Linked DNA regions of Homo sapiens: all the other regions are linked to region 1. The links come from fine-mapping of genetic effects on gene expression. A gene starts in region 1. Each other region holds a variant in brackets. All regions are shown on one strand. Distances are from middle to middle. Region 1 holds the start of SLC6A16 (solute carrier family 6 member 16). Region 2 has its middle 26 kb from the start of FGF21. Region 3 overlaps TEAD2 (TEA domain transcription factor 2).

What was found. PIP is the estimated chance that this variant, and not a neighbour inherited with it, causes the effect. A credible set is the group of variants that fine-mapping cannot tell apart.
Region 2: its variant is the best candidate, but not a certain one, in a credible set for the expression of SLC6A16 in minor salivary gland (GTEx, PIP 0.77).
Region 3: its variant is the best candidate, but not a certain one, in a credible set for the expression of SLC6A16 in neutrophils (BLUEPRINT, PIP 0.60).

What each region holds. Positions count from the first base shown.
Region 1 is chr19:49,320,655-49,330,933 of GRCh38, reverse strand. It overlaps SLC6A16 (solute carrier family 6 member 16), which reads left to right and starts at 5,743. Exons shown (of 12, transcript NM_014037.3): 1 at 5,743-5,886. RefSeq lists a silencer at 3,485-3,636 and an enhancer at 4,430-4,579.
Region 2 is chr19:48,776,245-48,786,523 of GRCh38, reverse strand. No RefSeq gene overlaps it. Among named protein-coding and RNA genes, the nearest start is that of FGF21, 26 kb to the right of the region's middle. RefSeq lists a cis regulatory region at 5,096-5,736. The variant G/C (reference allele first, on the strand shown) is at 4,852.
Region 3 is chr19:49,340,024-49,350,302 of GRCh38, reverse strand. It overlaps TEAD2 (TEA domain transcription factor 2), which reads left to right. Exons shown (of 13, transcript NM_001256660.2): 9 at 1,458-1,600; 10 at 2,940-3,113; 11 at 6,905-7,072; 12 at 7,713-7,865; 13 at 8,866-9,708. The coding sequence ends at 8,979. It overlaps CD37 (CD37 molecule), which reads right to left. Exons shown (of 8, transcript NM_001774.3): 8 at 9,697-10,052. The coding sequence ends at 9,975. It also overlaps a transcript of SLC6A16 not described here. Among named protein-coding and RNA genes, the nearest start is that of CD37, 9.8 kb to the right of the region's middle. RefSeq lists enhancers at 7,115-7,214, 9,864-10,279. The variant A/G (reference allele first, on the strand shown) is at 2,507.

The DNA.
Region 1 (10,279 bases):
GTCTCACTCTATTGCCCAGGCTGGAGTGCAATGGCACAACCTCGGCTCACTGCAACCTCTGCTTCCCGGGTTCAAGCGATTCTCCCGCCTCAGCCTCCTGAGTAGCTGGGATTACAGACACCCACCATCATGCCCAGCTAATTTTTGTATTTTTAGTAGAGACAGGGTTTCACCATGTTGGCCAGGCTGGTCTTGAACTCCTGACCTCAGGTGATCTGCCCACCTTGGCCTCCCAAAGTCCTGGGATTACAGGCAAGCCACTGCACCTGGCCTGGCAGTCTGTGTTTTAACAAGCCTTCCTGGTGACTGATGTGCACTAACGTTTGAGAACAGCAATTCTACCCATTGAATTCACCTGATCCCCTCCTCCTTTACTGGCAAATTCCCTCTTGCTTTTCCTCCTTCCTTCTTCACTGGCTGGTTCTCCTCAATCTTCATTGGATCGTCCTTTTTCTAGCTTCTAAAATTTGGGGAGTCCTAGCCCTTTCTAGCTACACTCACTCACGAGATGATATCATGCAGTGCCATAGTGTTCATCGCAATCTACAATACTGTTGACTTACCAATTTATATGCCTAGCCTCAAACTTTCCCCTGAACTGCGGACTCAGGAAGATTCATTTCCCAGGTCTCCTTGCAGTGAAGGACAACTTAACCTCTGCCTTTGGCTGTATAATTGACATCTCAAACTTAACACGCCCAAAACGAAACTATTGATTCCCTCCCACCTCCTGCACACTCCAGTACTTTCCTTTTCAGTAAATTGTCACTCCATCTTCCAATTCTTCAGGCCCAAAGTTTTGGAGTCTTTTTTTTTTTTTTGAGGTCTTGCTCTGTCACACAAGTGGGAGGGCACTGGCACGATCATGACTCATTGCAGCCTCAATCTCCTGGGCTCAAGTGATCTTCCCACTCAGCCTCCTGAGTAGCTGGGACAACAGATGCGTGCCACCACACCTGGCTATTAAAAAACACTTTTCTTTCCTTTAAGAGACAAGGCCGGGCTGGGCACGGTGGCTCACGCCTGTAATCCCAGCACTTTGGGAGGCCGAGGCGGGCGGATCACGAGTTCAGGAGATCGAGACCATCCTGGCTAACACAGTGAAACCCCCGTCTCTACTAAAAATACAAAAAATTAGCCAGGCGTAGTGGCGGGCGCCTGTAGTCCCAGCTATTCGGGAGGCTGAGGCAGGAGAATGGTGTGAACCTGGGAGGCAGAGCTTGCAGTGAGTGGAGATCGCACCACTGCACTCCAGCCTGGGCGACAGAGCGAGACTAGACTGTCTCAAAAAAAAAAAAAAAAAAAAAAAAAGACAAGGCCTTGCTATGTTGCCCAGGCTAGTATCCTACTATCAAACTCCTAGCCTCAAGCAATCCTCCCACCTCGCCCTTGCAAAGTGCTGGGACTACAGGTGCAAGCCACCGCTCCCGGCTGAGTCATTCTTGATTCCTCTCTTTCTCTCAGACCCCAAACCTAATCACCATTAGTTTTCTAATGCTCTGTAACAAATTACCCCAAATTTAGCAGTTTAAAACAATAAACATTTCTTAGGCCAGGAGCGGTGGCTCACTGTAATCCCAGCACTTTGGGAGGCTGAGGCAGGCAGATTACGAGGTCAGGAGTTCGAGACCAGCCTGACCAACATAGTGAAACCCCGTCTCTACTAAAAATACAAAAATTAGCTGGATGTGGTCCCACCTGTAGTCCCAGCTACTCGGGAGGCTGAGGCAGGAGAATTGCTTGAACCTGGGAGGCGGAGGTTGTGGTGAGCTGAGATCGCACCACTGCACTGCAGCCTGGGCAACAGAGCAGGACTCTATCTCAAAAAAAAAACACAATAAACATTTCTTACCTACTGTAGTTTTTGTGGGTCAGGAATCTGGGAGCAGCTTAGTTGGATGATTTCTGCTCACAGTGTTTTATGAGGTTGCAGTCAAGATGTTGGCTGGGGCTGTAGTCATCTGGAGATTTAACTACGGCTGGAGGATCCACTTCACCATGGTTCACTCACCTGGTGCTGGTTGCTGGCAGGAAATTTCAGCTCTTCTCTTATATGGATCTCTTCACAGATTGCTTGAGTGTCCTCACCGTATGGTGACTGGCTTCCTTTACAGAAATCAGTTGAAGGGAATGGGCAAGTAAGAAACAGCAATGCTTTTTATGACCTAGTCCTGAAGTTCCCCACCATTACTTATGTTCATTGGAAGCCAGTTGCTAAGGAGAGCCTGCACTCAAAGATTGGGGAAATAGACTTTATCTTTCAAAGTGTTGAAGAATTTGCAGACGTATTTTAAAACCACCACACAATCCATCAACACATCATGTCGGCTCTATTCTTGAAATAGATCCAGAATTTGACCACTTTTCACCATCTCCATTGCTATTACCCAGATCTAATCAACACCATCACTTGCCTGGACTAGAGATTTCCTCCTCACTGGGCTCTCTGCTTCTATCTTTAGCCCATTGCTATGATTTGGCTGTGTCCCCACCCAAAATCTCATCTTGAATTATAATCTTCATAATCCCCATGTGTCAAAGGAGAGACCAGGTGGAGGTAACTGAATCATGGGGGTGGTTTCCCCAGGCTGTTTTTGTGATAGTGAGTGAGTTCTCATGAGATCTGATGGTTTTATAAGGGGCTCTTCCCTCCTTTGCTTGTGAAGAAGGTGCCTTTTTTCCCCTTTGCCTTCTGCCATGATTGTAAGTTTCCTGAGGCCTCCCCAGCCAAGCTGAACTGTGAGTCAATTAAACCTCTTTTCTTCGTAAATTACCCAGTCTTGAGCAGTTCTTTACAGCAGTGTGAAAACAGAGGAATACACCCATACATGCTATTCTCTGCCCAGAAGCCAGGGGGAGCCTGCCATTAAAATGAAAGTCACTCCTTGACTCAGAACCCTCAAATAGCTTTCATCTCACCCAGAAAAAAAAGAAAAAAATTCCGACCATGACCTATAAGGGCCTCCAAATAATACTCTGGCCCCTGCCACTGCTCTGATCTGATCTGTTGCTACCCTTTCCTCAATCACTGGGATCCATTCATATCAGACTCTTTGCCATTTCCAGAACCCATCAAGTGTACTTCTTGCCTCAAGGCTTTTGCTGTTGCCATTTTCTTTGCCTGGAATGTTCTTCCCTATGCTGTTCACAAGGCTCCCTTCCTTCAGCTCTCTGCTGAAATATCACTTTCCCCAAGAGTCCTTCTTGACTACCCTGTCTAAAGTAACTCCCTATCAGCACTCTTACTCTCTGAAATTCTTTCTATTTAGGCATTTACTTTCTTTGTGCAACTGGAACGTAAAATCTTTTTCATAACTATATCCCAGGGGTCTAGGACAGTGTGGGGCACATCATTCAATAAATATTTATTGACCGACTGAGACTTTTCCTGGTGCCTTGAACACACAGTTTGCCCTGCCTCAGGGCCTTTGCACAGCCTCAAGGCTTGAGATGTTCACACACATTTTTCACCTAGCAAATAATCCTTTAAGCCTCAACTCCAGTGTTATTTCCTTAGAGAAATCCTCCTTCTAAATTAGGTCTATGGGCCGGGCGCAGTGGCTCACGCCTGTAATCCCAGCACTTTGGGAGGCTGAGGCGGGCGGATCACCTGAGGTCAGGAGTTCAAGACCAGCCTGGCCAACATGGCAGGCTGACTCTACTAAACCCTGACTCTACTAAAAATATGAAAATTAACCAGGCGTAATGGCAGGCACCTGCAACCCCAGCTACTCGGAAGGCTGAGGCAGGGAGAATTGCTTGAACCCGGGAGGCAGAGGTTGCAGTGAGCCGAGATTATGCCACTGCACTTCAGCCTGGGTGACAAAGTGAGATTGTCTCAAAAAAAAAAAAAATTCGATAGAAATAAATAGGTCTGTGGCCCTTTTCTGTCGCAGCACTTTTTTTTTTTTCCTTGAGACAGGGTCTTACCCCATCACCCAGGCTGGAGTGTAGTAGTGTGATCTTGGCTTACTGCAACTTCTGCCTCATGGTTTTAAGTGATTCTTGTGCCTCAGCCACCCGAGTAGCTGGGATTACAGGCGTGCACCACCACACCTGGCTCGTTTTTGTATTTTTAGTAGAGATGGGGTTTCACCATGTTGGCCAGGCTGGTCTTGAACTCCTGGCCTCATGTGATCCGCCCACCTTGGCCTCCCAAAGTGCTGGGATTACAGGCGTGAGCCACCATGCCCGGCCTGTCATAGCACTTAATACAATTTATAATCATGTAATTATTTGAGATTCATCATATATCTGTTTTCTTGTTGTGTGAAGCAAAACGAGGGCAGGAATGGGGTCTGTTTTGTTCTCTACACTATTCCCAGTTCCTAGCATTTAGTAGACTCTCGATAAATACGTGTTGAAAGATTGAATGATTCCCAAAGATTGTGATGAATTCTTACAGCACCCCCAAAATTTCCTCTTCATCTCTTTGTTCAATCATAACAATTTAAGCCTTTCATTCTCAAAGTGTGGCTCAGGGACTCCTGGGGGCTCTTGAAACACTTTTGGGGGTCCATGAGGTGAACATTATTTTCATAATACTACTAAGATATTATTTGCCTTTCACTTTCATTTCCTCTTTGAATATAGTGATGTTTGCCAGAAGCTACAAGACATGAGCTATTTTGACACACTCAGTGCAGAAGCAGATATGAGAATCCAGCTGTCTTCTATGAAGCCAGACATTAGAGAGATTTGCAAAAATGTAAAATGATGCCATTCTTCTCCCCAAATTTTTTCTTTTTTTTCCTTTTTTTTTTTGAGACGGAGTCTTGCTCTGTTGTCTAGGCTGGAGTGCAGTGGCAAAATCTCGGCTCATTGCAACCTCTGCCTCCTGGGTTCCAACGATTCTCCTGCCTCAGGCTCCCGAGTAGCTGGGATTACAGGTGTGTGCCACCACGCCCGGCTAATTTTTTTTTTTTTTGACTTTTAGTAGAGACGGGGTTTCATCATGTTGGCCAAGCTAGTCTCGAACTCCTGACCTCGTGATCCACCCGCCTTGGCCTCCCAAAGTGCTGGGATTACAGGCGTCAGCCACCGCGCCCAGCGCCAAAATTTCTTTTGGAGTAGAAATTATAGTTATTTTAAATAAAAATGTTATTTTGACACATAATGAATTTTTAAACAATGACTATTTTAGAAATTTATTTTAATATTGATAGATACAACTCACATAAACATACAACCCATATAAATGTAACTCATAAATTATTGGAGTCCTTAATAATTCTTAAGAGACCGGAAAGTATGAGAACGGATGACCTAAGTAAATCTTTGAGTTTTTAATTCTTGTCTGCAGCCCTAGTAGGCTTCTGAGCTCTCTTAAGGCAACGTCCCTGTCTGCCTTGTTGGACGCATATTTAAGGTTTGGTTTCTAGTAGGCGATCTTTAAGTAAATGCGAAAGGTTTGAAGGCTAGAAGGAATGAATGAGACGATTCTCCCACTTCCTACCCTCTTCTTCCTTACATGAAGTGGAAGCAAAGTGCATGTGCCAGAGAAAGGCCTTGTCTTAGAGCCCCGCCTGAAGCGTGGCATCGTGGGTGTCGGGGTGGGGTGCGGTGGGGAAGGGAGTGGCGCGTGAGCAGTCAGAGGATGTGCACACGTGCGTGCGTGTGGGGAGAGAGCAGGGAGTTGGGGAGGGCGAAGTGGTTACAGTGTTTGCTACAGCTGTAGGGAAAGAGTGAGGGGGCGCGGCGGCGCATGCGCAGAGAATCGGCGGGAAAGGCCGCGCGCCAGGCAGATCGAGGGGTGTCGCCCAAACCGATCTGTCGACGCCTGAAGGGGCCTGAGGAGATTGCTAGGCTTCTCAGCTGGGGCTTCTTCACCCTCATTTTTGTCCGACTGGCTGGACTGAAGAACCTGGCAGAAGCCTTGGGGCTAGGGTGAGGGTCACGGCCCAGGGAGCCCTAAAATGTTCCCACATCTGGGGTGTGTGGGGCTGGGCGCCATTTTCGAGGCCCGGGCCCACTGGGCTCCACTGACGGGTGACAGGTGACTGGCTGGGAGCCTCCTGGTTGCCCTGGGCTCTGTGGAGCTGAGGGATCAAAGGGGTCCCTCCTTTACCCCCCACGTAGGACAGAGGAAACTGTCTTCGGCTCTCCTCACTCATCCAGTCCGAGTTTGAGCCAATTCCTTGACAGGATTCGGCCATCAGTCCCTGCCTTTGGGGAAAGCCATCAGTGTCAAGTGCCCGAGTGGCAGAAACCCGGGTCTAGCCCCATCACTGGTCTGTTAGGGCAGTTATTTTCTGCTTTTTGCAGAAATGGGACACCAGCTCCTTATTTTCCTTTTCTGGAGGTTATAGTTCCAGGGAAGGAGGTAATGTGAGGGGAATGGGCATTTCTGGGGGATCCTGAGCACTCCCCACAGGGCATGAGCCTAGGAGTTGCTTGGGATGACGGTGTAGGGGCACCATGGAGGGTTGCACCCATATGGGAAGAGGAGTCCGCCTGGGGCTCAAGGGGCTTTATGGATGTTGGAAGTGGCCAGCTGGCCAAAACTCAGTTCTCTCCCTTCCGTAAAGCTTGCTTTTAAGGACAACTGTTCTAGAATGTGTTTAAGAAACATGAATCTATTATTTTTTATTTATTTATTTATTTGAGATGGAGTCCCACTCTGTCACCCAGGCTGGAGTGCAGTGGCACGATCTCAGCTCACTGCAACCTCTGCTTCCCAGGTTCAAGCGATTCTCCTGCCTCAGCCTCCCAAGTAGCTGGGACTATAGGCGTGCGCCACCACCCCCAGCTAATTTTTTGTATTTTTAGTAGAAACGGGGTTTCACTGTGTTGGCCTGGCTGGTCTCGAGCTCCTGACCTCAGCCGATCCACCCGCCTCAGCTTCCTAAAGTGCTGAGATTACAGGTGTGAACCCCCGTGCCCAGCCTATTATTATTATTTTTAAGAGACAGGGTCTCTCTCTGTCTCCCAGGCTGGAGTCCAGTGGCATGATCACCTCTCACTACAGCCTCGAACTTCTGGGCTCAAGCAATCCTTCCACCTCAGCCTTTCAAAGAGCTGGGATTACAGGCTGAGCCACTGGAGGCTTGGTTTTCACTTATTTTGGGTGTATACCCAGAAGTGGAATTGCTGGATCATATGGTAATTCTATTTTTAAGTTTTTGAGGAACCACCATAGTGTTTTCCATGGTGGTTGCACCATTTTACATTCTGACCAGCAAGGCACAAGGATTCCAATTTCTCCACATCCTCACCAACACTTCTTATTTTCTGCCTTTTTATATTAGCCATCCTAATGGATGCGAGGTATTATCTCATTGTAGTTTTCATTTGCATTTCCTTAATGATTAGTGACGTTGAACATCTTTTCATGTACTTCTTGGAGATTGGTATATCTTCCTTGGAGAAATGTCTATTTAAGTCTTTTGCCCATTTTTGAATTGTGTTGTTTGTTTCTTTGTTGTTGAGTTTTACGAGTTCTCTATATATTCTGAATATTAATCTCTTATTATACATATGATTTTCAGATATTTCCTCCCATTCTGTGGGTTATCTTTTCACCCCTTTGATAGTGTCTCTTGATGCACAAATTTAAAACATTTTAATGAAATCCTGTTTGTTTCTTCTTTTGTTGCTTTTGCCTTTGGTATCATATCCAAGAATTCATTGCAGATCCACTATCATGAAGCTTTTGTCGTATGTTTTATTCTAAGAATTTTATAATTTTAAGTGTTACATTTAGGTCTTTGATTTATTTTGTGTATTTGTATGTGGTGTTAGGTAAGAGTCCATCTTTACTCTTTTGCCTGTACATAATCCAGTTTTCCCAGCACCATTTGTTGAAAAGACTGTCCTTTACTCATTGAGTAGTCTTGGCACCCTTGTAAAAAATCATTTTTCCATACATTGTTTCTGGGCCCTCTATTCTGTTCCCTTGGTCTGTATCTTTATGTGAGTAACACACTATTTTGATTACTATAGCTTTGTAATATGTTTTGAAATCAGGAAATGTGAGTACACCAGCGTTTTTCTTCTTTTTCAAGATTATTTTGGCTGTTCAGGGTCCCTTGAGATTTCATGTTAGTTTTAGGACGTGTTTTTCTATTTCTGCAAAAAAAAAAAAAAAAAAAAAAAAAAAAAAAAAAAAAAAAAAAAAGCTACTAATTCTGTAGATTGCTTTGGGTAATACTGACATCTTAACAGTGTTGTCTTCCAACCCATGAACATGGGATATTTTTCCATTTATTTATGTCTCCTTTAATTTTTTTCAGCAATGTTTTGTAGTTTTCTTTGTACATGTCTTTCACCTTCTTGGTTAATTCTTTTTTTTTTTTTTTTTGAGATGGAGTTTCACTCTTGTTGCCCAGGTTGGAGTGCAATGGTGCAATCTCGGCTCACTGCAACCTCTGCCTCCCAGGTTCAAGTGATTCTCCTGCCTCAGCCTCCTGAGTAGCTGGGATTACAGGCATGTGCCACCATGCCTGGGTAACTTGGTAATGGAAACGGGTTTTCTCCATGTTCGTCAGGCTGGTCTCGAACTCCTGACCTCAGGTGATCTGCCCACTTTGGCCTCCCAAAGTGCTGGGATTACAGGCTTGAGCCACCGTGCCCAGCCAAGTTAATTCTTAAGTATTTTATTCTTTCTGATGCTATTACAAATGGAATTGTTTTCATAATTTTCTTTTCAGATTGTTCATTGTTAGTGTATAAAAATGCAACTGAGTTTTGATTGTTGACTTTGTATCCTGCTACTTTGCTGAATTCATTTATTAGCTCAAAAATTTTTTTGGTGAAAATTTTAGGATTTTCTACGTATAAGATCATATAATCTTTCTAGTTTGGTTTCCTTTTATTTATTTATATTTTTGCCTAATTTCTCTGGCTAGGACTTCCAGTACTATGTTGAATAAAAGTGGCAAAATTAGACATTCTACGCTTGTTTCTAATCTTAGAGGAAAAGCTTACAGTCTTTTATCATTAAGTATGACATTTGCTGTGAGTTTTTCGTATATGGCTATTATGTTGGGATATTTTCCTTTTTTTTTTTTTGCTGAGACATGGTGTCACTTTGTGACCCAGGCTGGAGTGTAGTGGTGTCATCATGGCTCACTGTAGCGTTGACCTCCTGGGCTGAAGTGATTCTCCCATCTCAGCCTCATGAGTAGCTAGGACTACAGAAGTACATCAACACACCCAGGTAATTAAAAATTTTGTTTGTTTGTTTGTTTGTTTGTTTTTGAGATGGAGTCTTGCTCTGTCACCCAGGCTGGAGTGCAGTGGTATGATCTTGGCTCACTGCAACCTCTGCCTCCCAGGTTCAAGCGATTCTCCAGCCTTAGCCTCCCAAGTAGCTGGGACTACAGGTGCACACCACCACATCTGACTAATTTTTGTATTTTTAGTAGAGATCAGGTTTCACCATGTTAGCCAGGCTGGTCTTGAACTCCTGACCTCAGGTGATCCACCCGCCTTGGCCTCCCAAAGTGCTGGGATTACAGATGTGAGCCACTGCACCTGGCCCCAGGCTGGTCTTGAACTCCTGGGTTCAAGTGGTCATCAGGCCTCCCAAAGTGTTGGGATTACAGGCATGAGTCACCATGCCCAGCCGTATTTTCCTTTAACTCCTAGATTGTTGAGTTTTTTTTTTTTTTTTTATCATGAAAGGGTATTGAGTTTTGTCAAATGTTTTTTCTGCATCAGTTGAGAGAATCATTATTTTTCTTTCATTTTGTTAATGTGGTATATTATATTGATTGATTTTTGTATGCAGAACCATCCTTGCATTCCAGGAATAAATCCCACTTGGTCATGGTATATAATCCTTTTAATATGCTGCTGAATTAGGTTTGGTAGTATTTTTTTTGAGGATTTTTGCATCAAAGTTCATAATGAATATAGGTCTGTAGTGTTCTTTTCTTATAATGTCTTTGTATGGCTCTGGTATTAGGGCAATGTTGGCCTTATAGGATGAATGAGGAAGTGTTCCCTCCTCTCCAATTTTTTGGAAAAGTTTGAGAAGGATTGATATTAATTCATTAAAGGTTTAGTAGAATTCACCCATGAAGCCATCAGGTCCAGAGCTTTTCTTTGTTGAGAGATTTTTGATTACCAATTCAATCTCCTTACTAGTTATAGATCTATTCAGATTTTCTGTTTGTGATTTAGTCTTAGTAGATTTGTATTTCTAGGAATTTGTCCATTTAATCTAGGTTATCCAGTTTATTGGTGTACAGTTGTTCATAAGTTCATAGTACTCTCTTATAATCCTTCTATTTCTGTAGAATTGGTAATAATGTCCCCATTTTCATTTCTGGTTTTA
Region 2 (10,279 bases), 540 kb after region 1:
CTCTACTAAAAATACAAAAATTGGCCCAGTGTGGTGGTGGGCAGTAATCCCAGGTACTCAGGAGGCTGAGGCAGGAGAATCACTTGAACCCCGGAGGCACAGGTTGCAGTGAGCCGAGATTGTGCCATTGCACTCCAGCCTGGGCGACAGAGTGAGACTCCATCTCAAAAAAAAAAAAAAAAAAAAAAATAGAAACACTGGCTTAGGCAGGGCGCGGTGGCTCACATGTGTATTCCCAGCTTTTTGGGAGACCGAGGCAGACAGATCACTTGAGGTCAGGGGTTCGAGTCCGGCCTGGCCAACATGGGGAAACCCTGCCTCCACTAAAAACACAAAAATTAGCCAGGCTTGGTGGCAGGTGTCTGTAATCCCAGCTATTTGAGAGGCTGAGGCGAGAGATTCGCTTGATCCCAGGAGGCAGAGTTTGCAGTGAGCCAAGATGACACCACTGCACTCCAGCCTGAGTTAGACTCCATCTCAAAAAAGAAGAAAACAAAACAAAACAGAAACACTGGCTTAGGCATTTATGAAAAACCCACAGCAAACATCCTACTCAATGGTGAAAGACTGACAATACACAAAAGAAAGAAAGAAATTCGTAACAGACATAAATGGAAAGACATCCCAAGTTTATAGACTGGAAGACAATAGTATTAAGATGACGATGCAGCTGGGCACGGTAGCTCATGCCTATAATCCCAGCATTTTGGGAGGCTGAGGCAGGAGGATTGCTGGAGCCCAGGAGTTTAAGATCAGCCTTGGCAACTGATATGGTTTGGCTCTGTGTCCCCACTGAAATCTCATTATGAATTATAATCTCAGCGGGTCCAGGGAGGGACATGGTGGGAGGTAACTGGATCGTGGGGGCAGTTTCCCCCATGCTGTTCTCGTAGTCATGAGTGAGTTCGCACAAGATCTGATGGTTTGAAACTGTGGTGGTTCCCTCCTCTAGCTCTTTCTCCCTCCTGCCACTATATAAGACGTGCCTTGCTTCCCCTTCCCCTTTTGCTATGATTGTAAGTCTCCTGAGGACTCCCCAGCCCTGTGGAACTGTGAGTCAATTAAACCTCTTTTCTTTATAAATTACCCAGTCTCGGGTAGTTAGTTTTAACAGCATGCACCTGGTCTCTACAACAACAACAACAAAAACTTAGCTGGGTATGGTGGCACCTGCCTGCAGTCCCAACTACTGAGAAGGCTGAGGTGGGAGGATTGCTTGAGCACGAGGTCGAGGTTGCAGTGAGCCATGGGGTCGTGCCACCACACTCCAGCCTGGGCAACACAGTAAGGGCCTGTCTCAAAAAAAAAAAAAAAAAGTGATCTAGTAACTGAATTTAATCCATATCAAAATTTGAACATCTGGCTGGGCGGGGTGGCTCACAACTGTAAATCCCAGCACTTTGGGAGGCTGAGGTGGGCGGATCACCTGAGGTCAGGAGTTCAAGACCAGCCTGGCCGACATGATGAAACCCCGTCTCTACTAAAAATACAAAAATTAGCCAGGCATGATGATGCCTGTAATTCCAGCTACTTGGGAGGCTGAGGCATGAGAATCACTTGAACCCGGGAGGTGGACGTAGCAGTGAGCTGAGATCGCACCACTGCACTCTAGCCTGGGTGACAGAGAGAGACTCCATCTCAAACAAACAAACAAAACGTGCAGAATGCTAAAGACTAAGCAAATAAGTAATAGCTACCATGTCCAGAGGCTTCCTCTAAGCCCGCTAGAAGGCACTGCCCTACAGTATTTCTCTCGTTTCCACTTGTGCAGATAAGAATACTGAAATTCAGAAGTCTCCTGCCCCTGGTTACTCCAGTAGTAAGAGGTGGGGGAACTCAGGCTCTCTCTCTTCATTGCCCACATCCTGAACCACTGCTCATGTTATATGCCCATATTTTGCATGTAAATTCAAAAGATTTAGGCGTCAGGTCCCGATCCTTTAACCCCTGGTTACCAGTCCCTGTTCTAGTCCACCCCTCAGGAGGAGGCAGCTGGAGTATCTGAGGTCAGTCACACGTGCAGTCTGCCATGCTTACATGACCAACACTTGTTTAAAATTTTGTCCCCCGGACTGCGCACGGTGCCTCACGAATGTAATCCCAGCACTTTGAGAGGCCGAGGCGGGCAGATTCCTTGAGCCCAGGAGTTCGGGACTAGCCTGGGCAACATGGCAAAACCCCGTCTCTACTAAAAATACAAAAATTAGGCCCAGCATGGTGGTGGCTCACGCCTGTAATCCTAGAACTTTGGGAGGCCGAGGCAGGCGGATCACAAGGTCCAAGAGTTTGAGAACAGCCTGGCCAACATCATGAAACCCCATCTCTACTAAAAATACAAAAAGTAGCCCGGCATGGTGGCAGGTGCCTATAATCCCAGCTACCCAGGAGGCTGAGGCAGGAGAATCGCTTGAACCCAGGAGGCAGAGGTTGCAGTGAGCCGAGACTGCGCCATTGCTCTCCAGCCTGGGCAACAGGGCGAGACTCCGTCTCAAAAAAAACAAAAAACAAAAACCAAAAATTAGCCAGGCAGAGTGGCGGGCGCCTGTAGTTGCAGCTACTTGGGAGGCTGGAGCAGGAGAATCACTTGAACCCAGGAGGCGGAAGCTGCAATGAGCCGAGATCACGCCGCTGCACTCCAGCCTGGGTGACAGAGTAAGACTTCGTCTCAAAAATAAATAAATACATAAATAAATAAAAATTAAAAAATTAGCCAGGTGTGATGGCGTACCCTTGTAATCCCAGCTACTCGTGAGGCATGAGAATAGCTTGAACCTGGGAGGTTGAGTCTGCAGTGAGCCGAAATCATGACACTGCATTTCAGCCTGGGTGACAAAGCAAGACTCAAAAAAAAAAAAAAAATTTTTTTTTCATCCTAAGATCTGGGGTGAGACTCCCTGGTTGGCAATACTGCATGCGTTTTGGCACACGTCATTACCGGGAGAATTGAGCACTGTCTAGAACTCCACTGGGGGAGGACATCTGAAAGCTCACGCCTGGTGTCTCCTGGACTCTGCCCCATCCACGTTTTCCCTTGGCTGATGATGACGATGATGATGACGATGATGATGATGATGATTATTATTATTATTTTGAGACGGAGTCTCGCTCTGTCGCCCAGGCTGGAGTGCAGTGGTGCGATCTTGGCTCACTGCAACCTCCGCCTCCTGGGTTCATGCCATTCTCCTGCCTCAGCCTCCCGAGTAGCTGGGATTCCAGGCGTGTGCCACCACGCCCAGCTAATTTTTTGTATTTTTTAGTAGAGACAGGGTTTCACCATGTTGGTCAGCTGGTCTTGAACTCCTGACCTCAGGTGATCCACCTGCCTTGGACTCCCAAAGTGCTAGGATTACAGGCGTGAGCCACCACGCCCGGCGTACAGTTTAAATTTATAAACATAAAAGAATTTGGGGGCCAGGCGCGGTGGCTCACGCCTGTAATCCTAGCCCTTTGGGAGAACGAGGCGGGCAGATCGCTTGAGCTCAGAAGCTCGAGACCAGCCTGGGCAACATGGCAAAACCCCATTTCTACAAAAAATTTAAAAATTAGCTGAGCGTGGTAGCGAGTACCTGTAATCCCAGATACTCGGGAGGCTGAGGTGGGGGATCGCTTGAGTCCAGGAGTTCCAGGTTGCAGTGAGCAGAGATCGCGCCACTGCCCTCCATCCTGGGCGACAGAGTCAGACCTTGTTTCAATAAATAAATAAATAAATAAATAAATAAATAAATAAATAAATAAATAAATAAATAAGGTGAGGGGGGTATTTCTGAAATGACGTGGAAGCTCGGATTCTTTTTTCCAGAAGCCTCAGTTCAGAGTCTTTTCCAAGGGCCGGTTGCGGAGTTTGAGGATAGAGCACTAAGAGCACCCAATAGGAATGACTGAAAGCCCATGACGTCACTAGTGGCTGGGCAACAGCTCCAGAGTGCCTCTCGCTGACCTGCTTCGGGAAGTGGCCCCCGGTTCGCGTCACATGCCAGCCCCTGGCCTGCGTCACAGACCAGGATACACACCCAAATCCCAGGGGCCAGGAAATGTGTTCCCCGTGAAACCAAATTTAGCAAAGGAAAGAATGCAACAACTTTTAAACTCATTAAAGGCTCCCTGGCCGGGCGCGGTGGCTCACGCCTGTAATCCCAGCACTTTGGGAGGCCGAGGCGGGAGGATCACAGGGTCAGGAGATCGAGACCATCCTGGCTAACACGGTGAAAGCCCGTCTCTACTAAAAATACAAAAAATTAGCCGGGCGTGGTGGTGGGCGCCTGTAGTCCCCGCTACTCGGGAGGAGGGAGGCTGGGGCAGGAGAATGGCGTGAACCCGAGAGGCGGAGCTTGCAGTGAGTCGAGATCGCGCCACTGCACTCCAGCCTAGGCGACAGAGAGCTGTCTCAAAAAAAAAAAAAAATTGTGTTCCCCTTCCATGGATCTTATCTAGAAAAAAACACCTGTTTTTCTCAGGCTCACACTCAACACTTCTGTGACCAGGTGTGTGGGGTTTTTCCCACGCTGACAAATTCTCCTACCCAAGCTGGGTGTCCCACAATTCAATCCAACTCTGACATTATCTACCTGGAGATAGCATCGGATCCCACAGGTGAAAGGCTCAGTCCCACGAGGCTGCCCCTTGGGAGATGCCAATCACAAGTCCACGTGGTCTCACCCGAGCTTCTGACTTGCTAGTAATGGGGGTTCCCATGACTCCCTCCTTAGGCTCAGAAATTTGCTACAATGCCTCACAGAACTAAGGAAAACACATTTATCAGTTTATCATATAATTAAATAAAACCTGTCAGATAAAGAGGTGCAAAGGGCAACATCTGAACGCCTCCCGAGCACGGGAGCAAAGGATGGGTTT[G/C]GGGGAGCTTCCAGGTTGGGCGTCTCCATGGAGTTGGGGTGCTTCCCCGCCCGGAACTGTGGGCAGAGAGCCACCCAGGTGCTGAGGCAAGAGATTGAAGGCACATACTGTTTCAATATAATAAAGAAAATACTTAGAATAAGAAAAGTTATACTAGCAATAGGATATAGAGATGATTATATATGGATATTATCAATTATTAGTTTTAGTATTAATCTCTGTTTTATTATTATAACTGAGGAAAAACCAGGCGATACAGAGTCAGGAGCTGAAGGGACATGGTGAGATGTGACCAGAAGACAAGAGTGAAAGTCCTCCGCCACGCCCAGATAAGGGCTTAAGGACGCCTTGGTCTAGTGGTAGCACCAGTGCCTGGGAAGGCACCCGTTACTTAGCAGACCGGGAAAGGGAGTTTCCCCTTCCTTGGGGGAGTTAGAGAACACTCTGCCTCACCAGCCTCTTGTGGGAGGCCGGACATTAGCCAGGCCTGCCCACAGTCATCCGGAGGCTTAAACATCTCCCTGTGGTACTGTGCTTCAGTGGTCATGATCCTTGTCCACTTTCATGTTCCGCCTGTACACCTGGTTCCTCTTTTAAGTTCCTGGGAGATAGCAGTAGCAGAAATAGTGAAAATATTAAAGTCTTTGATCTCTCTGATAAGTACATAGAAAAAATGCTGACCGTATGCTGTCTTCCCTCTCTGCTTCGTCTACCAAAAAGGGAAAGGCCCCCTGTCACATGGACACGTGACTTGCTTGACCTTATTAATCATTTGAGATGACTCACACTCCTTACCCTGCCCCCTTGCCTTGTATACAATAAATAGCAGCAGTCCAGGCATTCGAGGCCACTAATGGACTCCATGCACTGGTGGTAGTGGCCCCCTGGGCCCAGCTGTCTTTCATACTCTCTCTTAGTTTCATGTCTTTCTTTCTACAATCTCTCATCTCCACACACGAAGAGAAAACCCACAAGGCCCTGTAGGGCTGGACGCTACAAGGAACCTCTCCCACCCCCATACTTTAGGGACTTTTATGGAGACTTCAGCGCATAAGTAGGATAGATTAGTAATTCCAGCTCCAGTTCCCTCTTCTTCCGGAAAGATGTGGAGTGGGATGGGGCTACAGGTTCCATGCTTCTAATATTGACTGAGTCTTGCTGGTGATCAGCCCCCATCAGGAGCCCACCAAGAGTCACCTCATTAGAAAAAAAGGTGCTCTCAGCTGGGTGTGGTGGCTCACGCCTGTAATCCCAGCACTTTGGGAGGCCAAGGGGGTAGATCACCTGAAGTCAGGAGTTCCAGACCAACCTTGCCAACATGGTGAAACCCCCGTCTCTACTAAAAATACAAAAATTAGCCAGGCATGGTGGCGGGCACCTGTAGTCCCAGCTACTTGGGAGGCTGAAGCAGGAGACTTGCTTGAACCCAGGAGGCAGAGGTTGCAGTGTGTGGAGATTGCACCACTGCACTCCAGCCTGGTGACAGAGCAAGACGCTGTCTCAAACAAAAAAAAAAAAAAAAAAAAAAAAAAAAAAGGGAAGAAGAAAATAAAAAGAAAAAAGAAAAAATGATGCTCCCATTACTCAGGAAATTCCAAGGGATTTAGGAGCCCTTTGTCGGGAACTGGGGTCAAAGATCAAATATTAGAACAAAAGATGCTGCTGGCATCCCTAACACTGGGGAAATTATAAGGGGTTTCAAAGCTCTGTCCCAGAAACTGGGGGGACAGAGACCAAATATATATTTGTTATTGTGTGACAGTGCCCCTGGGGGGATTATATCTCCCAGCACCCCTTGCAAGTCACTGGGGTTATGTGAGTGGTTCTGGCCAATGAGAAGAGCCCTGCCTCACTTCCAGCCACACCCATTAGGGAACTTCTAATGTGCCCTCTCTCTTTTCTCTACCTGCCGGTTGGATGCAGATAGCAGTGTAGTAGTCATCTATTGCTGTCTAACAAATTACCCCTGAGTTAATTCCTCACAGCTTAAACAACAAATATTTATTGTATCACATAGTTTTTTTTTTCCCTTCTCTCTCTCTCTTTTTTTTTTAGTAGCTGGGATTACAGGCACCTACCACCACACCTGGCTAATTTTTTTTTTTTTTTTGAGACGGAGTCTCGCTCTGTCACCAGGCTGGAGTGCAGTGGCATGATCTCTGCTCACTGCAAGCTCTGTCTCCTGGGTTCACGCCATTTTCCTGCCTCAGCCTCCCAAGTAGCTGGGACCACAGGCACCCACTGCCACACCTGGCTAATTTTTTGTATTTTTAGTAGAGATGGGGTTTCACCGTGTTAGCCAGGATGGTCTCGATCTCCTGACCTCGTGATCCACCTGCCTCGGCCTCCCAATTTTTGTATTTTTAGTAGAGATGGCCCTGAACTCCTGACCTCAAGTGGTCTGCCTGCCTCGGCCTCCCAAAGTTCTGGGATTACAGGTGTCAGCCATGGTGCCTGGCCTTCTCACATAGTTTCTGGAGGGTCAGGAATCCCAAGCAGCTCGGCTGGGTGTTCCTGGTTCAGGTTTCAGTCAAGCTTGTCAGCCAGGACTGCAGTCATGTGAAGGCTCGACAGAGGCTGGAGAACCCTCTTTTTTTTTTTCTCTCGAGACAGAGTCTCAGAGTCTCACTCTGTTGCCCAGGCTGGAGTGCAGTGGCACAGTCTCCACTCACTGAAACCTTTGCCTCCCAGGTTTAAGTGATTCTCCTGCGTCAGCCTCCCGAGTAGCTGGGATTACAGGCACGTGCCACCACACCCAGCTAATTTTTTGTATTTTTAAGTAGAGACGGGATTTCACCATGTTGGCCAGGCTGGTTCTCGAACACCTGGCTTCAAGTTATCCACTTGCTTTGGCCTCCCAAAATGCTGGTATTACAGGTGTGAGCCACTGAGCCTGGCCTATCCGAGCTCACTCACAGGGCTGTTGGCTGGAGGCCTTAGTTCCTCGCTGGCTGTTGATGTCTGCATGGGCTGCTTGGGCATTCCTCGTGTCTTGGCCACTAGCTTCTCCCAGAGCAAGTGATGAAAGAGAGAGTGAGAGAGAGACCACGATGGAAGCCGCAGTCTTTGTAGCCTAGTCTCAGATGTCATATCCCACCATTCCTTTTTTTTTTTTTTCTTGAGACAGGGTCCCCCTCTGTCATCAAGGCTGGAGTGCAGTGGTGCGGTCATGGCTCACTGGAGCCTCAACTTCCTAGGCTCAAGTGATACTCCTGCCTCAGCCTGCCAAGTAGCTGGGACCATGGGCACACGCCACCACACCCAGCCAATTAAAATTTTTTTTTAATTTTTTGAGACGGAGTTTTGCTCTTATTGCCCAGGCTGGAGTGCAATGGTGCGATCTCAACTCACCACAACCTCCACCTCCCGGGTTTAAGCGATTCTCCTGCCTCAGCCTCCCAAGTAGCTGGGATTACATCCCACTACGCCCGGCTAATTTTGTATTTTTTTAGTAGAGACAGAGTTTCTCCATGTTGGTCAGGCTGGTCTCGAACTCCCGACCTCAGGTGATCCGCCCACCTCTGCCTCCCAGAGTGCTGGGATTACAGGCATGAGCCACTGCGCCCGGCCTAATTTTTAAATTTTTTGTAGAGATGGGGGCCTCAGGCTGGTCTTGACCTCTTGGGCTCAAGTGATCCTCCTGCCTCAGCCTCCTAAAGTGCTGGGATTACAGGTGTGAGCGACTGCCTGGCCCATCCCACCACTTCTGCCCTGTGATATCCATCACAAAGGCCAACCCTAGTGTAATGTGGGAAAGGAATGCACATGGCATAGATACCAAGAGGTGGGGATCATTGCGGTTCACCTGGGAGCCTGCGTCCCACATCCAGAGAGACCTTGGAGGCCACGTGTGAAAATGGCAAAGCTGGCCGGGCGCAGTGGCTCACGCCTGTAATCCCAGCACTTTGGGAAGCCGAGGCGGGAGGATTACCTGAGGTCAGGAGTTCGAGATCAGCCTGGGCAACACGGTGAAACCCCGTCTCTACTAAAAATACAAAATTAGCCGGGCGTGGTGACACATGCCTGTAATCCCAGCTACTTGGGAGGCTGAGGCAGGAGAATCGCTTGAACCCGGGAGGCGGAGGATGCGGTGAGCCGAGATCGCGCCATTGCACTCCAGCCTGGGCAACAAGAGTAAATCTCCATCTCACCAAAAAAAATAGAAGAAGAAGAAGAAAAAAAAAAGAAAATGACAGAGCTGCTATCAGCCTGAGTCCTTGACCCTCTGTCTTTCTACTAGTTAGACTTTACATGAATAGAAACAAAAATCAACTGTAGGGCCAGGTGCAGTGGCTCACACCTGTAATCCCAGTGCTTTGGGAGGCCAAGGCAAGAGGGTTGCTTGAACCCAGGAGTTTGAGACTACTGGGCAACATAGTGAGACCCCATCTCTCTGTAAAAAAAAAAAAAAAAAAAATCAATTAGGCCAGGCACGGTGGCTCACGGCCACTCAGCACTTTGGGAGGCCGAGGCCGGCAAATCACGAGATCAGGAGTTCCAGACCAGCCTGGCCAACATGGTGAAACCCTGTGTCTACTAAAAATACAAAAAATTAGCTGGGCATAGTGGCAGGTGCCTGTAATCCCACCTACCCCGGAGACTGAGGCAGGAGAATCGCTTGAACCCGGGAGGCAGAGGTTGTAGTGATCGCACCACTGCATTCCAGCCCGGATGAAAGAGTGAGACTCCGTCTCAAAAAAAAAAAAAAAAAAACAATTGTTCAAACCACTGATATTTTAGTGTGGGTCCGTCCCAGTGTTTCACATTGCTATAACTAATTCAGAGATCAGTTACCAATGGGACAGCATGGGGAAGGTTAAACTGAACACGTAGCACTGTGTGACTTTACTGTGTACATATATAACTTTGATTAAAAAAGTAAATATGAAAAAGCGGGAATACAGAAAACCCATTCAATCCAAGTGAAGGAAGGAATAAAAAAATAAAAATAACCCACTGAATAAACTCCAGATGGATCAAAGTCTTCAGTATCAGATAGGAAACCATAACGAGTGAGAAGTAAGCATTGGAAAATTATTTTATAACATGGGCATGACCGTGACTCAAACTTCAGAGGCCAGAAAAGAAAACATTGATATGGTCAAATACATTAAATAGAAATCGGCATTCTTCCCCTTCCCTAAATTTGTCTTCCTGAACGATAAAGTTCTAAGGTTTGAGGTGGGGCAGGCAAGGCCAGCTTGGGGTGTTGGGGGCACAGTGGCCCAGAAGTGGGGTGTCAGGGCCTTAGTGGGGTGAAGGAGGCATTTACTGATGTGAGCAGCTCAGCACAGTGGGGGGCACCCAAGTAGGAAACGTAAGTCCCCTAGGCTAATAGGATGGGGGGCTGTAGCTCGGGAAGTCAGCCCAAGCTGGGTGCAGAGGGCACAGGGGAGGTGGAAGGAGGGGACAGCTGTGGAGATGAGAG
Region 3 (10,279 bases), 19 kb before region 1:
AAAAATGTATTGATTTATTGGTTCCAGTAACTGACAGTTCAGAATTATGGCCTCAGGCGTGGCTGGATCCAGCGGCTCAAGTGATGGCATCAGTCATTACTTTGATCTGCTTTCCACTGTGGTGGCTTCATTCCCAGGCAGACTCAGCTACTTGGCAGCAAAGATGGCTTCTGGAAGTCCATGCTGATATGGCCCTGAGAACTCACATCAGTGAAAGAGGGAGTCCCTTAGTTTCCATAGATTTATCAATTAGGAATACTTTTGGCTGCAAGTAACAGAAGACCCACATTAAAAGTGCCTTAAATAGTAAAAGCATTCATGTTATGAATCCATGCAACAAAAAGCCTGGAGGTGGGCTGTTCCCGTGTGGGCTTAGCAATATCAGGACTGGAATCTCTGTAGTTCCTCTCATGTCTGTCTTATTGTCCCAAGATGGCTGTTGCAACTCCAGGGATCATGTCTGTGTTGGTCCATTTGCATTGCTGTAAAGGAATGCCTGAAACTGGGTGATTTATAAAGAAAAGAGGTTTATTTGGTTCACAGTTCTGCAGGCTGTACAGGAAGCATGTTGCCAGCCTATGCTTCTGGTGAGGGCCTCAGGAAGCTTAGGACCATGGTGGAAGGGGAAGGGGAGCCACTATGTCACATGGTGAGAGGGAGCAAGAGAGCGAAGCCAGGCTCCTTTAAACAGCCAGCTCACATCAACTCAAAGAGTGAGAATTCACTTGTTACTATGGGGAAGGCACCAAGACATTCATGAGGGATCCACCCCCATGACCCAAGCACTTCCCATCAGGCCCCACCTCCAACCTTGGGGATCACACTTTTTTTTTTTTTTTTGAGACAGAGTCTCGCTCTGTCCCCCAGTCTGGAGTGCAGTGGCGCAATCTCGGCTCACTGCAACCCCCGCCTCCTGGGTTCAAGCCATTCTCCTGCCTCAGCCTCCTAAGTAGCTGGGATTACAGGCACGTGCCACCATGCCCAGCTAATATTTTGTATTTTTAGTAGAGACAGGGTTTCACCATGTTAGCCAGGACGGTCTCAATCTCCTGACCTTGTGATCCACCTGCGTTGGCCTCCCAAAGTGCTGGGATTACAGGTGTGAGCCACCGTGCCCAGCTGGGGATCACATTTCAACATGAGATTTGGAGGGGACAAATATCCAAACCATATCAATCTCCCAAGCAGGACTTGGCCAGGGCCAAAAGCTTTCTCCTCCCAAAGTTCTGTCTTTTTCATTCAGGAAGAAACTCCTTCCCAGAAGCCCCCCAGCAGATTTCCCCTAACGTCTCATTGGCTAGGACTGTGTCACATGGCCACTTCTAACTGCAAGGGAGGCTGGGAAAGTGAGTATTTAGCTTTTTCAGCTTCTAAGTGGAGGCAGGCAAGAGACAACAGTACCTGATATATTCCATAAATGTTAGCAATTTGTATTGTTCTTTCTTCTCTCTCTCTAGGGTACGAGCCCCCCCAAGCCCTCTCACCCCTGCCCCCACCTACCCCATCGCCCCCAGCCTGGCAGGCTCGGGGCCTGGGCACCGCCCGGTTGCAGCTGGTAGAGTTCTCAGCCTTCGTGGAACCGCCAGATGCAGTTGATTCTGTGAGTGAAATTTTGGTACAGTCGCTGAGGGATTTTGAAATATAGAGGGTGACAGGAAGGGAATGTATAAAGTCATGGTTTTAAAACTTTAGCATGTATCAGAATCATCTGAAGGGCTTCTTAAAACAGAGATTGCTTTCTGATTTGCTAGATGTGATGTGGGGCTTGAGAATTTGCATTTCTAATAAGCTACCAGGTGCGTTGATGCAGCTGGTCTGGGGACCGTACTTTGAGAACTACTAGCATAAAGGAACTGGAAGGTCATAGGGTGACAAGTTGGGAAGGTCAGAAAAGCTCCCCAGGACATCATTCATTCATTTATCAAACGTGTTTGAGTTTCTACTGTTCACTAGGCTTTGTGATGCATACTAGGAACTTGGAAAAGATTTTATTTCTGTGCTTGAGCTTCTCCTGGGCTAGGATGGAGTGGGCCGACTGTTAGAAGAAACAGCTCCTAACTCTTAGGGACTGAATGCCAGATAAGTTGCATGTAACATTTCAATGTAGGTTCAGCAGGAGCCTTGGACTCAAGTGATTTGGGGATCCAGGCTCCTTCCATTTTGTGGCTCTGCCATTTTCTAAGGCTTCAGAATCTGCTGATGGAGTCTCTGCATCTGGCCAGCAGATGGAGGAAGGGAGAGAGTCAAGATTGTGCAGGAGGTTTTAGGAATCTGACTTGGATGTGTCGACTCTCAGGCCTGGTCACATCCCATTGGCCAGAACTTAGTCATGTGGTCACACCTAACTGCAAAGCGGCCTGGGAAATGTAGTTTCACACTGTGTAAAGGAACCAGGATTTGTGAACACGTAGCAGTCTCTGCCACACCATATAAACATCAATCAAAACATCAACCACAAGACCTCTGTGGATTCCCATTCATTCACTCTTCCATCCATTGACCATTT[A/G]TGAGCACCTGTTCTATATAGGACCAGGCCTAGGGGGTGTGAGCTTTGCCCTGGGGCTGCTGGGGAGCTATGGGAGGGCCATGACCAGGGGAGGGTCAGGGGCAGGTCTGGAGCCACATGAGGGATGAACTGGAGAGGCGAGGTTGGAGGCTGGGGTGAGGGTGGGAGGCCTGAGGTGAGGCTGAGGCAGTGAGGATGGAGTTGGGGGAGTTGTGGCAGGGAGTTGGGGACTGTAGGACTGCAGGGCTGCAGGGGACTGGGTGCAGAAGCAGGAGTGGGGACGATGGGTGGCAGTCAGGCCCAGTGCTGGGTGGACTGTGTGGAACAGCTGGCCAGAGCTGTGGGGATGGTGACGGCATTTGGTGGGCTCAGGCAGCACAGGCTGGAGATCCAGCTCACCTCCGACTTCTCACCCACGGCCAACCCTCCTCAGTACCAGAGGCACCTGTTCGTGCACATCAGCCAGCACTGCCCCAGCCCCGGAGCGCCGCCGCTCGAGAGTGTGGACGTCCGGCAGATCTACGACAAATTCCCTGAGAAAAAGGGTGGCCTCCGAGAGCTATATGATCGTGGCCCCCCCCATGCCTTCTTCCTGGTCAAGTTCTGGGTGAGTTCTCACAGCAAAATCAAAAGTGCTCACAAATCCTGTGGTGTCCCAGCAAAGGCCTCTGGCCCTGAGAGAATCTGTCGCGGGCCCTACCAGGTCAGCCTGGGACTTACCAGTCAGTCCTCATGGCTTGGAGTGTCAGCCCCCTTTGCAACAAGGAACACCGAGGAGGCCAGCCCCCAGGGTGGGTTGGAGGTGTCTGGGCCTCCCTGGATCCCACTAGACATTGCCACATGTAACTAATACGGTGAGTTACCTGGCCATGTAGCTAATAGGGTCCTGGGCATGGGCTTGCCATGTTCCAGGCTTCCCTGTGCCCCACCTGACTGCACCAAGCCGTGCTGCTAAGGAAAGACCCCTCCCCGTAGCCAGTGGACTTGTGGAGACTGGTTTCTAAAGAGGGGACTGATGCTTTGCATCAGTTTCACCAGACCTTGTTGCTAGAGAATGTCTGGCTTTGAGGAAGTGATGAAAAGAGCCATGGAGTGGCTTTGCCAAGTCCTGTATTCATTTATTTGTTTATTTATTTATTTTTGAGACATAGTCTCACTGTCACCCAGGCTGGAGTGCAGTGGCTGTATCTTGGCTCACGGCAACCTCCGCCTCCTGGATTCAAGCGATTCTCCTGCCTCAGCCTCCCCAGTAGATTGGACTACAGGCACCCGCCACCACATCTGGCTAATTTTTGTATATTTAGTACAGACGGGGTTTCACCATGTTGGCCAGGCTGGTCTTGAACTCCTGGCCTCAAATGATCTGCCCACCTTGGCCTCCCAAAGTGCTGGGATTACAGGTGTGAGCCACCGCACCCGTCCAAGTCCTGTATTTATGTAGCAATCATTTATTGAGCACTTCCTATATAGACGCCTGGTGTCAGCTGCTATTTATATGATTGGGACTAAGAGGGCCCATCTTGCGTGTTTCTTAGGGCTACTTGGTTTGGTGTCCAGTATGATGACTAACACTACAGGGGTTCAATAAATGTGTTTTATTTTCTTTTATTGTTTTTTTTTTTTTTTTTTTTGAGATGGAATTTTGCTCTTGTTGCCCAGGCTGGAGTGCAATGGTGCGATCTCGGCTCACTGCAACCTCTGCCTCCTGGGTTCAAGCGATTCTCCAGCCTCAGCCTCCCAAGTAGCTGGGATTACAGGCATGCACGACCATGCCCAGCTAATTTTTGTATTTTTAGTAGAGACGGAGTTTCGTCATGTTGGCCAGGCTGATCTTGAACTCCTGACCTCATGTGATCCGCTCACCTTGGCCTCTCCAAGTGCTGGGATTACAGGCATGAGCCACTGCACCTGGCCTAATTTTTGTATTTTTAGTAGAGACAGGGTTTTACCATGTTGGCCAGTCTGGTCTCGAACTCCTGACCTCAAGTGATCCACCCACCTTGGCCTCCCAAAGTGCTGGGATTACAAGTGTGAGCCACAGTGCCTGGCCTGGGCTCAATAAATGTTGCCTGGATGTTTAGGGGGTGCTAGTTCTTATAGTAACAAAGGTGGTGGAGGGATCTAGTCTCTGAGAAGAAAGCCTGGCTAGGTGTGGTGGTTCACTCCTATCTTCCCAGCACTTTGGGAAGCTGAGGCGAGAGTTTCGCTTGTGTTCAAGAGTTTGACACCAGCCTGGGCAACACAGTGAGACCTCAACTCTACAAAAAATGAAAAAAATTAGCTGGGTGTGGTGGTGCGCACCTGTGGTCCTAGCTTCTGTGGAGGCTGAGGCAGGAGGATCACTTAAGCCTGGGAGGTGGAGGCTGCAGTGAGCCAAGATTGTGCCACTGCCCTCCAGCCTGGGTGACAGAATGAGACCCTGCCGAAAGAAAGAAAGGAAGAAAGGAAGAAGGAAAGAAAGGAAAGAAAAGAAAGAAGGAAAGAAAGAAGGAAGGAAGGAAGGAAAGGAAGGAAAGGCCTGCTGAGGGCCTGAACTTTACTGTTCTTGCTGGGAGTGTTGTTGTTCTGGAGCTTGCTGTTCACGGTTCTGGAGCTTTCTGCCATGTGAAGCAGAAGCCTGAAACTGCTCTGGGGATGTGCAGCTGAGGGCTTAGACATTGTTGGGGCTTAAGACAGGCCTTATCAGGTCCCAGGACTGGAGAGCCACCCCCTTAGGAAGCCCAGCTGCTGAAGGGGTTCAGAGGAGCAGCTGGTAAGGTCTTTGGTTTTGCCACGGTGAGAGATGGAGTCGGGCCCCTGAGAAGACGGACCTGGCACAGTGTTAGCAACTAAAGTTAGGAAGAGGAAGAGGTGCGCCTCGCAAGGAGGTGACTCAGACCAAAGGTGTGATGAGCTCTTAGGCTTCCTTAGGCCCCACTTGGCCTAGTGACACTTGGCCAGCTGTCTACACACACTTGGCCACTGGGGTCATGGAGGGAGTCTGACCTCTCAGATTTGGCCGAGGGGGAAGTGCTCTGAGGAGGAGTCAGGCCTCCTCAGGCTCCGTGAGGTCCCGTTGCTAGGGAGTAGCCACTTGCCTTAGCAACCAGAGTGAGAGGGGCTTAGAGGGAGGTATTCATCTTGAACTGGTTGCTAAGAAGTAACTGCCATAGTAACCAGGCCCTTGGAAGGGGCTGAACTCTTGAGTTGCGGGCTTCAAGGGAAAAAGGTTGAATTGGCTGGACACAGTGGCTCATGCCTGTAATCTCAGCACTTTGGGAGGCCTAGGTGGGTGGATCACCTGAGTTCAGGAGTTTGAGACCAACCTGGCCAACATGACAAAACCCTGTCTCTACTAAAAATACAAAAATTAGCCAGACATGGTGGCGTGCGCCTGTAATCCCAGCCACTTGGGAGGCTGAGGCAGGAGAATCGCTTGAACCCGGGAGGCAGAGGTTGCAGTGAGTCAAGATCGCGGCATTGCACTGGGCAACAAGAGCGAGACTTCATCTCAGAAAAAAAAAAAAGAAAAGAAAAAAGGTTGAAATTGAATTCCAGGGCTCCTTTGGTTACTGGGGAGACAGGGCCAAGACTGTTTTGGGGACCCAGACTTCTTCAACGCTGATGGACGGTGGATCTTCTCCAGAAACCAGCCCTTGGAGAACTTTGAAAGCCTGACGCGGTGGCTCATGCCTGTAATCCCAGCACTTTCGGAGGCCAAGGTGGGAGGATCGCTTGAGCCCAGGAGTTGGAGACCAGCCTGGGCAACATGGTGAAACCCTGTTTCTACAAAAAATACAAAATATTAGCTGGATGTGGTGGCATGCACCTGTGGTCCTAGCTACTCAGGAGGCTGAGATGGGAGGATCACTTGAGCTCAGGAGGTCGAGGCTGCAGTGAGCTGTGATTGTACCACCACACATTGCCTGGGTGACGGAGCAAGACCCTGTTCCCCCCCCCCCAAAAAAAAAGACAAACAAACAACAAAAAAACAAAACAACACTGAAGAATCAAGCCGGGAACTGCAGGGGTAATGGTAGGCTATGGGGCAGAGTCCCCACTGTGTTTTTTTTTTTTTTAAGATGGAGTTTCGCTCTCGTTGCTCAGGCTGGAGTGCAATGGTATGATCTCGGCTCACCGCAACCTCTGCCTCCCGGGTTCAAGTGATTCTCCTGCGTCAGTGTCCCAGTAGCTGGGATTACAAGCATGCACCACCACGCCCGGCTAATTTTGTATTTTTAGTAGAGATGGGGTTTCTCCATGTTGGTCAGGCTGGTCTTGAACTCCCAACCTCAGGTGATCCGCCCGCCTCGGCCTCCCAAAGTACTGGGATTACAGGTGTGAACCACTGCGCCTGGTAGTCCCCACTGTTTATAAGGGATGTCCCCTCTGACTCATCTGTGCCTTCCCATCTCCCAGGCGGACCTGAACTGGGGCCCAAGTGGTGAGGAGGCAGGGGCCGGTGGCAGCATCAGCAGTGGTGGCTTCTACGGAGTGAGCAGCCAGTATGAGAGCCTGGAACACATGACCCTCACCTGTTCCTCCAAGGTCTGCTCTTTTGGCAAGCAGGTGGTGGAGAAGGTGGAGGTGAGGCTGGAGGGGTGGAGCTCTGGGTCAGCACTTGGGGGTGCAGAATGGACCAGAAGCCATCATGACTCAGGCATTTGGGAGTATGCATGGAGGGAGTGGGTCCCAGCCTCTTTGAGGGTTTAATGCATGCGTTGGGAGCTAATGGGCAGTTCAGAAGTCACAGGCAGGGATCATTCTGCGGGCTGACAGGTAATGTGTAGTATAGAGACTTAGAGTCACTGAGATTGAGAAGGGTCTTATGGATATGGAGAGGTTCTTAGGGCAAGAAGGTTCAGAAGTCACACTTACAGTTGCTGGAGACTTGGGGAAGTCTCAAGTTTAGAAGTCAGAGTTTGAAGACGTCATGGAGGGGTCTTTGGAGGGTATCTGAGGGCTGGGAGGTTAGAGGAGTCCAGAGGTCTTTGGGGGTTCAGAGAATCACTTTGAGGGGCTTGTGATTTGCAGGCTCAGAGATCCTGATTCGGATCTCCGAGGGTTCAGGCCCAGTCTCCAGTCACTGTGGGTGGGGTGATGAAAGGAAGGTGGCAGTGAGAGTGAGTGTGGTGGCATCTTAGAGGCACAGGGTGGAGCTCAATTCCTGGGGTGACCCGTGGGTCTCTCAGCCACCATTTTCCCAACTCCCTTCCCCTTGGTTCAGACGGAACGGGCCCAGCTGGAGGACGGCAGATTTGTGTACCGCCTGCTGCGCTCGCCCATGTGCGAGTACCTGGTGAATTTCTTGCACAAGTTGCGGCAGCTGCCTGAGCGATACATGATGAACAGCGTCCTGGAAAACTTCACCATCCTCCAGGTGATGCCTGGGGCTGGGCTGGAGTGGGGCCCCCCAGTGTGGAGGGACAGTACCTATAACAGACCCTCAGTCTAGGGGATCTCCTCACCCAGGAACTGACACAGCAGGGACTCCAAAGTGAGCCCTCAGCCTGAGGCTCTTTTAACTAGGAAACTGATGCAGCGGGGACCCCACCATTGACCCTTAGTTTAGGGGACCCTTCACCCAGGGTGGGGATGTCACAGCACTCTCTCTCTTTTTTTTTTTGAGATGGAGTCTCGCTCTGTCGCCCAGGCTGGAGTGCAGTGGCAAGATCTCGGCTCACTGCAACCTCTGCCTCCCGGGTTCAAGTGATTCTCCTGCCTCAGCCTCCCGAGTAGCTGGGATTACAGGCACGCCCCACCACGCCTGGCTAATTTTTGTATTTTTAGTAGAGATGGGGTTTCACCATGTTGGCCAGGTTGGTCTTGATCTCCGACCTCAAGTGATCCACCTGCCTAGGCCTCCCAAAGTGCTGGGATTACAGGTGTGAGCCACCACGCCCAGCCCCACAGCACTCGCACATAAGGTGGGTCCCTCCTTCCCTGGTGAAGCTGACTGGAGGGCACTCGAAGGCAGATCCTCAGCTTGTCAAGGAACATGATATGGTGGGAGCCCCTTTAACTTTTTGGACTGCTGAGGCAGAGACCCCTTGACCGCGGAACCTGCAGGGAGGGTTCTCCCTTTACTTGTGACATGATGGGGACCCCTTTTACCCAGGGAATGTGATGTGATGGGAACCCGATTAACCCTGAGATGTGATACACCATAACTGCCAACGCTCAGCTGAGGGGTAACCCCCATTGCCCAGGGAACTGACTTTTGGGCATCCCTTTCTCCTGGGGAACATGATATGGTGGCGGCCTGTTTCCTGGAGATGGAAAAGAGCCTGCTGGGTATTCCATGATAGCTTGGCAGGGGGGCACAGGGGTCCCTGCCCTCCCTTCTAAGCATAAGTCCCTTGTCCTGGCCTTCCTGGCAGGTGGTGACAAACAGAGACACCCAGGAACTGCTGCTCTGCACCGCCTATGTCTTCGAGGTCTCCACCAGCGAGCGTGGGGCCCAGCATCACATTTACCGCCTGGTCAGGGACTGAAGGGGGACCCCAAAACTGGCTCACCCCCCAGAACACCCTCCTCCCAGGGAGGGTCCTCCAGCTCACCTCATGCTTCTTATTTGGGGAGAGGGCTGTGATGTAAAGGGGTTGACCTCAGAGGCCTAAGCAACTGGGGCCATCCCCCCCATTAGAGGGGCCCCCAAAACTTGGTTGGAGAGCTGAACAGGCTGGGACTGAGGAAAGGATAAACCCCGATATTGGGACCTCACAGTGGGTGTCTGAAAGGACAGATCACTCCGGAGTATCAGGGATTGTGGGGACAGGAGTGAGACAACCCCCCAGGTACAGCACTGGCTTTTCTTTTCAGCCCCTGACAGGCCACCCCCACTCCTCTGCATGTCTTGGAGAGCGCTAGTTACACATTGGCTTGTCCCCTTTACTTTTTCCCAGCCACCCCTCCCCCTGAAATTTCTGCCCCTCTCTACCACCCTCACTCCATGACCTGTGAGATCACAAAGTGAAGATGAACCCTTTCTGTGCAGGAGCAGAGCCAGGTGGGCCCTGGACATTTTTTTTTTTTTTAATATAACGAGATATTTATAAGTGGGTGCTAGGGTCTTGACTTTATCTCCGCTGCACAAGCAGTGTGTTGAACTTTCTAATCTCATCCCTCTCCTAAGTGAGCCCTGAGCTAGACGGTTTCCTTCCTCCCCTCTCAAAGTTTGTTTGTTTGTGTTCTGACAGAGGATAAAGCTATTTTACCAAAAACGCAGGGGATTTATTTGAGGTTTGGGTGAAAAATAATCTTGTGGGTGGTGGTAGGCCGACAGATGGGGACAGGAAGCTGTGGACGAAAGCCCCAGGTCCCGTGGGAGAGGTGACAGCAGCAGGGGCACGCAGCCACGTGGGTCCCCAGGGGAATGTGAAGGCGGAGGGCTCCAGGCGAACTGGGGATTAAACAAATATTTACAGGCAGCAGGGAAGTGCCCAGCGCACGTGACGGGGGCGGGGCGGGACTTTGGGGAGGGCGGGGCCTAACGGTATCGAGCGAGCCGGTTGTAGACGTGGTCCAGGTTTCTGCACAGGAATATCGAGAGCGTCATGAACCCGAGCTATAGAGAAAGGAGATGAGGTCAGAGAAGTCGAAGGGGTGCTGGCGAGACGGGGGTGATGCCCACCCGGGCGAGAAAGGTCAGGGGTGGGGCCGTGAATTGGGCGGGAAGGGGCTGGAGAAGGGGATAGGTAGAAAAGGGCGGGGCTCGACGGGAACTGCCGCAGGGCTGGCTGATGAGGCGGGAATAGCTGCTACAAGTGGGGGTAGAGGCTGAGAAGGAGTAAG